Linked DNA regions of Homo sapiens: region 2 is linked to region 1. Evidence: fine-mapped expression QTL. A gene starts in region 1. The other region holds a variant in brackets. All regions are shown on one strand. Distances are between the middles of the regions. Region 1 holds the start of DUSP4 (dual specificity phosphatase 4). Region 2 has its middle 71 kb from the start of LINC02948.

Region 1 (5,367 bases):
AGGCCTGTACTACCCAGTCACTAGCCTCGCCCAGAATCTCCAGGGCTCTCGAATCGGTCTGGCTGGGGAAATGGAGGAGGTTGGGGAGGGAGGACTCTCAACGGGATTCACGAGGGACAGGGAAATGCCGCGCGCCCTGGGGATAAATCTTAAAAAATAATCCCTCTCTCCCCGGGAGCGGGGCCTAAGTGGCTGCACCCCCGGAAGCCCAAGGGCCGAGGTCCTGGAGCTGCCGCTCTAGGGCGGTCCCCTCGGGATTTCTTCCAGGAAGGAAAGCAAAACACAACAAAACAAATCCAGACTCCACGTGGGGCTGGAACCCAGTCCCAGCCCTGCTGTGTTCTAGCTGGTCCCGGGTTTGGACGCCAGCGAAGGAAGGCGCGCCCGCGCTCTCCATCGGGGGGACTCGAGGGCAGCGCCGTGCGGGGAACATCCCGGCCAGCCCCGGCCATTCGAGGGGACTTGCGTCCCAGAGGAATTGCCCTCATCTCTCCCACCAGCGCCGACAAGCTCAAACAATGGCGCGGACGCCCACCCTGGTGGCCTAACCAGGACCTGGCCCCGCTCAGCCGCCAGGCCTTCCGGGACAAGCCCCTTCCTGGCACTTTCTCTTGGAGCGCTTTGGGGAGAAGGGAGGGGGACTGGGCTCATTTGGAGGAGCAAAAGACAGCCCTCGCGGAAAAAGAAAGAAAAATCAGCAAAATCGCCTTAGCAGTTCAACCAAAGGTCAACAGCAGCGTTTCCCCAGCAGCTGACAGGTCAAATGGGCAGGAAACAACTGCGGGGAACAAAGCCCCCCGCTGTCCGGCAGGGGCGAACCCGGCTCCTCCGCACTGAACAGTTTTGTTGTGCTTTTTGGAGGGGAGAGGTTTCCGCCCCCTTTCCAGCTCCCTTCCTCCCGGGTGGACAGGTCGGAAGAGGAGCGGAAAGGAAAGGAAGGGAGGGAGGCGGCGAAGGCGCCTGCGGGGGGGAGGAGCGGCTCTTTGATGGGTGTGGGGGGGTCTGAACTGCCTACCGGGCTCGGAAGCGCAGACCCTACCCGCGCGGAAGAATGCGCGGAATGCGGCGGCGGGAGGCGGAGGCGCAGCGCGGCGGGGGGCGCCCGGACCCCACGCGCCCTGCCCGCTCCCTAGCCCGAGGGCCGCGGACCCACCCTGCCCTGCAGGTGTGGCGGGCGCCAGGTCCCTCCAGGGACTCGGACAGCACGCGATTTTTCCAGGATTTCCGACTACCAAATGTGACAAGACAGTCTCGCCGCCGAGAGTTTCGCCAGGGCTCGCTAAAATCCGGCACGCGCCGCCATCAGATAGTCGAAAATCCGGGCTGAACAAAAGGTGATCATTCTCCGCTGCCCGGATTTGCAGGCGCTAGAGGACCGGTTCCGCCCGGCGTCCCCCAGATACCCAGTCCTTCAGCCTCCCGCTCCCAGAGCCTGGATCTAGCCCGGGACGGGGATTGGCCACCTTCCAAGCTGAGCTTGGAGTTGGGCAGCGGGAACGCAGATACAGATCGCTCTACACAGTGTGTGCAACCCAATCTCCCTTTCTGCATTTGCCAGGGTCTTGTTTTCAGTGAAACTGGCAAGGCCAATTGTACCTCGGCGCCCACCCCTCTTCACCTTTTCTCCACCTCTGGGATTCTCCCGGTCCGGCTCAGTGTAGGGCCCCAGCACGCCAAACCAACAGGCCTATCTTGTCCCCACGCGCCCCGTGGTACTTGGAAACTGTTCCCGGGACTCAAGATGGACCGCGCAGAGGAGTCGCTTCATCCTCGAGGCTAGGACCGTTAATGTCAATAAACGGGGCCTCGCTAGGACGGTGCGGAATTGCAGGTGACCGGAGAAACCCGTCCGCACTTTCCCTGAGGACTTGAACCTCGCACTTGCACAGAAACCTTGCAAACCCCTACACACCAACACACACAAAGGGGCGCGCGGGGATCCCCGCAACCACGAATCACGCCGGGGACTCCTTCCCGTGCCAATAAGGCGCAGGCCGCCAAGACCCCCTCCATCTCCCCGACTCCAGCTAGCGCCCGGAGCCCTCGTTTACCTTTGAGCAGGCAGATGTCGGTGCGCTCGGCGTTGCGGCGCAGCGCCTGCACCACCAGCGACACGGTGCTGTCCTCGCGGAGGCTCTCGGCGCGCGGGCTGCGCTCGTCGTAGACGATGACCGCCGAGTAGAGGCCGGAGCGCAAGCGGGCGCGTACCTCCTCCTCGGCGGGCAGGATCTGCTCCAGGCTCACGGAGCCCTTAGCCCGCCGCCGCACGATGGTGTTACAGCGCACGTTGACCGAACCTAGGATGTAGCCCGCGCTGTGCGCCAGGAACGGTCTGCAGTCCAGCAGCAGGCACTTGCCGCCGCTCGGCAGCCCCAGGGTGCCGTGGCTGCCGCTGCCGCCCGCGCCGCCGCCATTCTCGTCCCGGTTCATCAGCCTTTTGAGCACACTGCAGTCCATCTCCCGCAGCTCCTCCATCGTCACCATGGTCGCCGGGAACCGAGGCGGCTGGGCGCGCGAGGAAGAGAAGAGAACCCGGGCCGCCTAGGCTGCAGAAAGGGGCGGGCGAGAGCTAAGAAGGGACGCCTGCAGAAGTGGCCGCAAACTTGGTCCTCAAGGGCTCCCGCGGGAGAGCCTCTTCTTCCCTGTCCCCTTCCTCCCGCAGCCTCGCGGTCACATAGCAGTCGGAGCGGCCTCGGGCGCCCAGCCGGGCGGCGCGCAGAGCGGAGGGGGAGGCGCCGGTGGAGGAGAGTGTGTTTACGAGAGAGGACCGCGGACTCTTTTCGGCGACGGCCTCCCGTGTATTTTTGCCGGTCGCGCGGCTCCTGTCGCCACTGGCGCCAGCGCTGCCCTGCCTACGCTCCTCCGGCGCTCAGCGCACTGCCCCAGCCAGAGTTTTCTCCTCGGCTTAGAGGTTTATTAATGCTCCTCCGCGCTCCCGGGGGAGGGGGCGCTAGGTACTACCCCGCCAGGCCCCGCCCCGTTCCATTCCGGGCCCCGCGCCGTCCCCCGCCCCCCGCGCTGTCCCCCGCCCCCCGCGCTGACTCCCCGCCCCCTCCGGGCCCCTCCTCCCACCCCCTCCCCGGAGCTTGAATGGAGCGCGGCCGCTGGCTCCCGGTCACGGGAACTCGACGTCACAAAGAGCGGAGTAAACAGGGCGCCGGGTGCTCGCCATCAGGCCCATTCATAAAACCGAGGCCGAGAGGAAGAGGGAGGCGGCCTCCGACCCGCCGCCAGCGGCGGGCAGCGCCCGGACTTTGTGAATGGAGCGCGCGGCGCCTTTCGCCGTCTACCCGCGGGCCCAGCCTGCGCCGCGCCTCCAGCCCGACACCGGCACCTGTGCCGCCGCTGCACCCCGCCGCTAGGCGGGCGGCGCCAAAGGAAATAGCCGGCTGAGGAGGCCAGGGCTCGGGTTTGAGCTTTCATCCCTTGGCACCTTCGCGCTTCCCCGCGTGACAGCCCCGTAGGTTTTTCCCGGTTACCCAAGTGGAGAGGGGACCGGAGCGCTGCTGCCCACCCAGCGGGGCCTGACACCTCCTAGCCCCAGACTCCCCGTGCGCTTTCGGCCCGGCCAGTCCTTTCTGAATATGCGATTCCTGAGACGTTAGCGTATGCATTAGCGTGATCGATTTTCATCTAAAGCCATTAAATCAGTTTTATAGCTTCCCCAAGAACGTGGGCAACCCCCTGCTTGGAAGATGAAAGAGAAAGTCCTCCCGCCCGAAGCCCAGGATCGGAGTGAGGTGTGGGGTTTGTTGCTTTACTACCCAAAGGGAGGCATTAATTGCCGGAATGGTGTTCCGAGGGAGGAGAGCAGGCTGCGCTCCTGTCCACGCTTCCTAAAAGATGTTTATTTAACCCTGGTCGGGGGAAAAACAAGGTTTTCGGGTTTGGGAAACGTCTTCACCCTATCTTGCATAGTTGTGAATTATCCTTTCAGGAAATGACAGGGTCCACATTTGTTGCGGAGCTGGACCCTGGAAAATGTACCCGCAAAGAATGACCTTTTGAAAGGACTTCAGCAGCTCTGGGTCCGATTCATGTTTCTGGGCATCCCTTTTTCCTGGTCACGTAGCAGCCCTCCCCATCCCCATTTCTCTTTTGCATTTAATTTCCCAGAGGCGGCTTTTGGCTGGGGGTTTGTGCACGCACGCGGTGGGGACCGTGCAGAAGCCAAAAATCATTCGCCCGACATCTTGCCAAGTCTTGTTAGTGAGAATTAATCACAGAGCAAGGGAGTTACAGGACTCGCTCGCAGTTTCGGAGGCTGCAGAGTAGCGTATTCCATTCCGGGGCGCGCGTGGAAGCCCGACCCAGGCAGCGAGGGCACCGGTACCCGCCGGGTCTCTCCCGCCCAAGCTCACCCTCTCCCCATGCCTTTGTTCCGGGCGGAGCGGCTTTCCCGAGCTCTCACCTCCGGTCCCGGGGGCCATCCCTGCACTCCCCGACCGGAGCTCGGCGGAGCCTCCACTTCCGAGACCTTCGACTGGCCTCGTCCCCCACTGGGCCCCGAATGCCTCGACCCCCGGGCCCTACTCGGATGAGCTGTAGGGGCACCGCTTGGGCAAGGTGATATTTCCTTTTGCTCCGGGCTCCAAAATGGCTTACGATGGCACTGCACGGATCCTTTCTCTTTTTAAAATTTAGTATTTTATTCATCATGGATTTTTTGCATTTTTTTTTCTTTTAAAGAGGCATTGCATCAAGATATTTCTTTTGATTACTGACTTTTCGGCGCCCTTCTTAAATGTTGCGCTCAAGGCTTGTGCTCACCCTAGTCCAGGCCCTGGAAGGAGCCACAACTGTGGACTGACCGAGGCTGCCCGGTGGCAGGACCCTGGGCGTCGGGCACTCCGGGTGGGAGATCAGTGGTCAAAGCCGCACGGCGTGGCCTCCCTGTGGGGAGGGCAAAAGGTGTCTGAGTCCAGTTTCCCATTCTGCTGAATGGGACTGTGGGGGTCTATCTAATAACTCGCTTTCGATAAGGAGCAAGGAGCCCCAGGGGCCCCGACAGTCCAAGGCTGATTTTGCTTTCCCGGGTTGCTCTCCAGCAGCTCAGAAATCCGCCGCCTGCCAGGACCCAGGGCCGGAGCTCTCCCGGCGCAAGTAAACACTGATTCCTTTACAAAGGCTTTAACAAGACATTTCTGGGAAAAGCCTCTCAGGAGGCAGGTCCGGGCCAATTTCACGCGTGTCGCAGGAGCTGGGGAGACGTCCCTGGGGCGCACGGGTCGCGCTCTGGGCCAGCTTTTGTCTACCCTGTTCTGGGGTCGCCTTCCCCGCCGGACCCGCGCCTGGCGCTCACGTGGCCAGTAAATAACAGTCAAATCCAGGGGGAGGAAAATGCCCATAGAACAAAGAGGCTTGCTT
Region 2 (5,367 bases), 140 kb after region 1:
GGGCTTGACAGCAAAATGGGCAAATGCCCGGCAAGCTCACCAATATGGCATGTCATTCAATCCTTTGATCTTGGCTAATCTGGTGGATGAAACATGTCACCTCAACGTGTTTTCATTTCTTTTGAACGTCATTTTATGTACTTAAGAGCCACTTGGATTTCCTTTTTTGTAAACTATTGATCTTTTTTTTTGCCTGTTATTCTTTGGAATGTTGGTACTTCTTTATGTTTTAGTAAAAGGAGCCTCTATCTATCCTTTGTCAGATAATAAGACTATTTTTCTAAGTAATTCTTTATCTACTTCTTAAGCGGTACAGAAGTGTTTTATCAAGAAAAAAATATGTGCATAGTTTTATTGAAGGTCTTGTATTGTGTGGTTTATAACTTTTCGTGGCTAGATAATGTATAGGAGAAGAAGTTATAAATGTAGTTAGGCTCTTGATGATGGGAAGCCTCATATTATAGGCCAAGAACTTTGGGTTTTACCCCAAAAGCAATTGTAAACCACTTTAAGAAAAGTGTGACATAATCAGATTTGCTTTTAATACTATACCAGTGATTGTTTGGGGTATTGCAAATATATATTTTTACCCCAGATTTGAAATGCCACTTTGTCCTATACTAAATACATTTACATCTATTTCTGGAATTTTAGGCCTGTTACCTTGAACTGTCTGCTTAATAATATTTTTTGTTTTTTGTGTTTTTTTGAGATGGAGTCTCACTCTTGTCATCCAGGCTAGAGTGCAATGGCATAATCTTGGCTCACTGCAACCACTGCTTCCTGGGTTCAAGCAATTCTCCTGCCTCAGCCTCCCGAGTAGCTGGGATTACAGGCAACTGCCACCACACTGGACTAATTTTTGTATGTTTAGTAGAGATGGGGTTTCACCAGGTTGGCCAGGCTGGTCTGAAACTCCTGACCTCAGGTGATCCACCCACTTCAGCCTCTCAACGAGCTGGAATTACAGGCGTGAGCCAACGTGCCTGGCCTAATAATGTTTTAATATGACATTATTTTGTTTACTGTGGCTTTATGTTTTAATATTTAGTAGAAATTTTTTCTCCATTGTCCATTTTCAAAATGGATTCCTGGATAAACTGGCTTAATAGTTTTCCTATATTAACAGTCTTAGTCCATTTGTGTTGCTCTAAAGGAATATCCTAGGCTTGACAATTTATAAAGAAAAGAGGTTTATTTGGCTCACGGTTCTGCAGGCTGTACAAGAAGCATGGCGCCAGGATCTATGTCTGATGAGGGCCTCAGGTTGCTTCCATTCATGGCAGAGGGTGAAGAGTAGCTAGTGTGCAAAGATCACAAGATCAGAGAGGAAGCAAGAGAATGGAAGGAAGAGTTGCCAGGCTCTGTTCAACCACCATGTTTAGTTTTCATGGAAACTAAGGGTGAGAATTCACTTGCTCCCTCCAGCGAGAATGGAACCAAGCCATTCATGAAGAATCTACCCCCACAATCCAAATACCTCCCACCAGACCCCACCTGCAACATTGTGAATTAAATTTCAACTTGGAGGGCCCAAAGAAAACAACTTCAAACCATTGCATTCACTTCACAGTTCTCTAGTCCAGATGTGCTTTCCTCCTTAAAAAAAAAATTCTGCTGTTCTTTGCATTGGGATCCCAATCCCAAGCACTGCTGTCTTCAGGGGCCAGCATGATGTATCCTCAGCTCCTCCTCCACCTCCTCTCCTAACACTGCCCTGAATTTTCTCTGCCTTCCCCACTCTGGCCCCCTTGCTATTGCTCAAACATGCCATGGCCTCCCATCTGCTACTGTCTTCATCTCTGTTCAGCAAGATTGAGTGGCCTCAACTTAGGACCAGGACCCCATCTATAGTCATTTGGGTGGGACTTTTCTCTACACCCTGGGATTTGGGGATGTGGCAGGTCCAATGTCCCGGTCAGCAGGTGGCGGACACAGGTCCTGGAACTGAGGCTGAATCTTTCCCTCTGTTTTCCCTAAAACAGTCCCAGGCATTGGGCAGGTGCCATTTTTTTCAGCTGCCTCTTGAGTGGCGTCAGGCCTGATTCCCTCTCAGCCTCAAGCAGGAACAGGTTGAGTCCCTGTTATTCAAGCAGCTGACCTCTCAGCAGCCTGATTCTGGCCCCAGAACCCTGCAGGCTGAAGGCTTCAGTTCCACACACTGCTTTGGTTTGGATCTGCATCTGGCTTTTGGAGATCTTTAGCTTGTTTCTGAGACCACCTGTGTCTTAGTGGGTTCCTCTTCTGATATTCTATCTCTCATTTTTATGTGTTCAGTACAGAGTGGGTGTGAGGAAGCATGAACTTCTGTGCACCATTGTGACTAGACCACTCATTTATCTTAGCAGACACTCTGAGGTCTGTCTCTCACGAGCTCCTGCTAAAATAACACATTAACCAGCCTGTACTTGTGTGGCGGTTTGGGGGTGCAAATGCTGGACCTTGCAACAATTCCTTCTAACAGCAGCCCTGTTGGAGGAAAGGCAGGTGGGTGTGACTGCAAATCTGTGGTCTCCAACCACAGCAGGGCCTCTGCAGTTCTGCACAGAAGCTCAGCTGGCTTCCTCTTGTCAGCCTCAGCACTTGATCTGGCCCCTCCATCACAGCAAATATGAATAACAGTGCTGACATTGTTCTTATCAGTACGAATGGGGCCGTCAAGTTAAACACCAGCAAGTCCTCTCACTCTTCAACTGTGCTTATCCTTCCCTCCAGGAATTCGTTTTTGTCTCCAGGAATTCTCTGCCTAGAGAACAACACAGTTGCTCTTTACCCTCACACAACACTTCTAATAGATGTGTGGGTTGGTTTTTTTTTTTTTTCCACCCCAAGCAAGTCTCCAATTTTCTGAATACCAGCTAGGAGTCCTACAATTTCATTAAATTCTGATACTATCTACCTGGAGTTAGCATCAGATCCCATGAGTTCAGGGCTCAGTCTCACAAGACTGCACCCCCCACTTCAGACACCAATCAGGAGTCCAGGCCTGTACTCCCAGGGACTCAGGATGCTGAGTGACCAGCTATAAGTTAGGGTTCCTGATCTCCTCCTTGGGTTTGATAATTTGCTAGAATGATGAGTAGAACTCAGGCACTCAGAACTTAGGTCTACTGTTTACTCAGGAAGAGCAGATGGAAAAGATGTACAGAGTAAGGCATTAGGGATGCAGGACATGGAGCTTCCACTCTGTCTCTGGGCACACCACCCTCCCAGCACCTGCATAGTTTCAGCCATCTGGAGCCCACCATGTCTTGTCCTTCAGTAGTTTTTATAGAGCTTAACC[C/T]CCAGGACCTGATGCCATTTCCCAGATGTCAGTGGGTGGGGCTGAAAGTTTTGTTTTGTTTTGTTTTGTTTTGTTTTTTAGACAGAGTCTCTCTCTGTCGCCCAGGCTGGAGTGCAATGGTGTGATCTCGGCTCACCACAACCTTCGCCTCCCAGGTCCAAGAGATTCTTCTGCCTCAGTCTCCCAAGTAGCTGGGATTACAGGTATCCACTACTATGCCCAGCTAATTTCTGTAGAGACGGGGTTTCACCATGTTGGCCATGCTGATCTTGAACTCCTGACTTCAGGTAATCCACCTGCCTCGGCCTCCCAAAGTGCTAGGATTACAGGCATGAGCCATTGCGCCTGGCCTGAAAGTTTTAGCCCTCTAATCGTTTGGTCTTTCTGAGGACTATCCCCATCCTGTAGCTATCTCGGTCCCCTATCTAAGTCACCTCATTGGCATAAACTCAGGAATGATCAAAAGGGACTTATTATTAATAACAAAAGACACTCCTATCACTCAGGAAATCCCAAGGATTTTAGGGGCTCTGTACCAGGCATTGGGGACAAAACCTGAATATATTATTATACCATAATGCCTCTCCTTTTTATCTAAGCCTTGTTGCCCAAACTGCCCTAATTCTTATCCTTTCAGGTTTCCTGTTTCATCAATTTCCCCTTCATTTACATATAAAATCTATATTTTACTCTGGTCTCTTTTATTTCAGCATATTATTATGGTTAAGTGTCTCTCATTTTCCAAACAGTAAATATATAAGGAGTCTCCCCCTGCCTGGCACACCTTCTAGAGTCTACCTTCCTTGCCCCTCATCACAAAACAAATTTCTCAGAGCAGTCTTTGCTCTTGCCACCCCCTTGCCACCCTTCTCTTCTGCAACCCATGGCCATCAGACCTCGGCCCCATCGCTCCACTGAAACCATGCAGTGAAGGTCAGTCACGAGCTTTTAATTGCCAAACCCAATGGGAAAATTGGTTTGGGTTGCTTGGTTTTTGTTCCTTAGCTTTTCTGCAACATTTACCACTTCTTCCCTTTGGAAACCCCACACTTCTTTGGCTTCTATGCCGTTGTCTCCTGTTCTCAGGACATGTCTCTGAGTTCTGTTTTGCCTCCTATAATAGTCAGGGTTCTCCAGAGAGACAATCAATAGGATGTATTAGAGGGAATTTATGAGGGAATTGGCTTAAATTATCACAGAGATGGAGGAGTCCCATGCTAGGCCATCTGCAAGCTGGAGAACCAGAGAAGCTAGTAGTGTGGCTCAGTCCAAATTCAAAGCCTCAGAACCAGGGAGGTGGACCATGTAGCCCCCAGTCCAAGGCCAAAGACCCAAGAAGCCCTGGGAGGCTGGTGGAACAAGCCTCATAGTCTGACAGCTATAGAACCTGAAGTCCAATGTCCAAGGGCAGGAGGAGAAAAGCATCTTGCTCTGGAGGGGAAAGGGGAGAGAGAGTGAGAGAGAGGGATGGAAAGAATAAATCATCCCCTTCTTTCTCCTGTTTGTCCCAACTAGGCCCCCAGCAGATTGGACGGCACCCACCCACACTGAGGGCTAGCCTTCCTCTCTCTGTTCACTGACCCACATGCCAGTCTTATCTGGAAATATCCTCACAGACACCCAGAAACGATGCTTCTCCAGCCATCTAGGCATCCCTCAATCCAGTCAAGTTGACACCTGGAATTGACCCTCCCACCTCCTTCCCACTGGCCTGCCTCCTCCACTCCTGGCTCTTCTCTCCTCCTGCGTCTTTCTCTCTGGCTTTCTCATGTGTACAAGCCTGCCTTTCCATTTGCCTGTGGATAATAACATCTGTACTGGATGGAATAGTGTTTCTCAAAATTCATGCCCACCCAGAACCCTGAATGTGACATTTGGAAACAGGGTCTTTGCAGATATAATTAGTTAATATGACGTCATCTGGATTCGGGTGGGCTCTACATCCAGAGACTTGTAAGAAAACCTGTTCTTCTTACAAGAAGAAGAGAGGAGGATGGCATATAAAGAAAGCGGCAGAGATTGGAGTAATCTCTCTACCAACAAAGGAACACCAAGAATGGCCACAACCTTAGAAAGGAGAGAGG

What was found. PIP is the estimated chance that this variant, and not a neighbour inherited with it, causes the effect.
Region 2: its variant is the best candidate, but not a certain one, in a credible set for the expression of DUSP4 in whole blood (TOPMed, PIP 0.81).

The regions. Positions count from the first base shown.
Region 1 is chr8:29,347,795-29,353,161 of GRCh38, forward strand. DUSP4 (dual specificity phosphatase 4) reads right to left here and starts at 2,890. Exons shown (of 4, transcript NM_001394.7): 1 at 2,052-2,890. The coding sequence starts at 2,484. It overlaps LOC124901924 (a long non-coding RNA gene), which reads left to right and starts at 3,180. Exons shown (of 2, transcript XR_007060876.1): 1 at 3,180-3,740. RefSeq lists silencers at 1,008-1,177, 2,748-3,067, 3,258-3,397 and enhancers at 1,888-2,389, 1,918-2,067, 2,390-2,889, 3,588-3,657, 3,698-3,807.
Region 2 is chr8:29,488,167-29,493,533 of GRCh38, forward strand. No RefSeq gene overlaps it. Among named protein-coding and RNA genes, the nearest start is that of LINC02948, 71 kb to the right of the region's middle. RefSeq lists enhancers at 1-251, 2,038-2,097, 2,353-2,858. The variant C/T (reference allele first, on the strand shown) is at 3,284.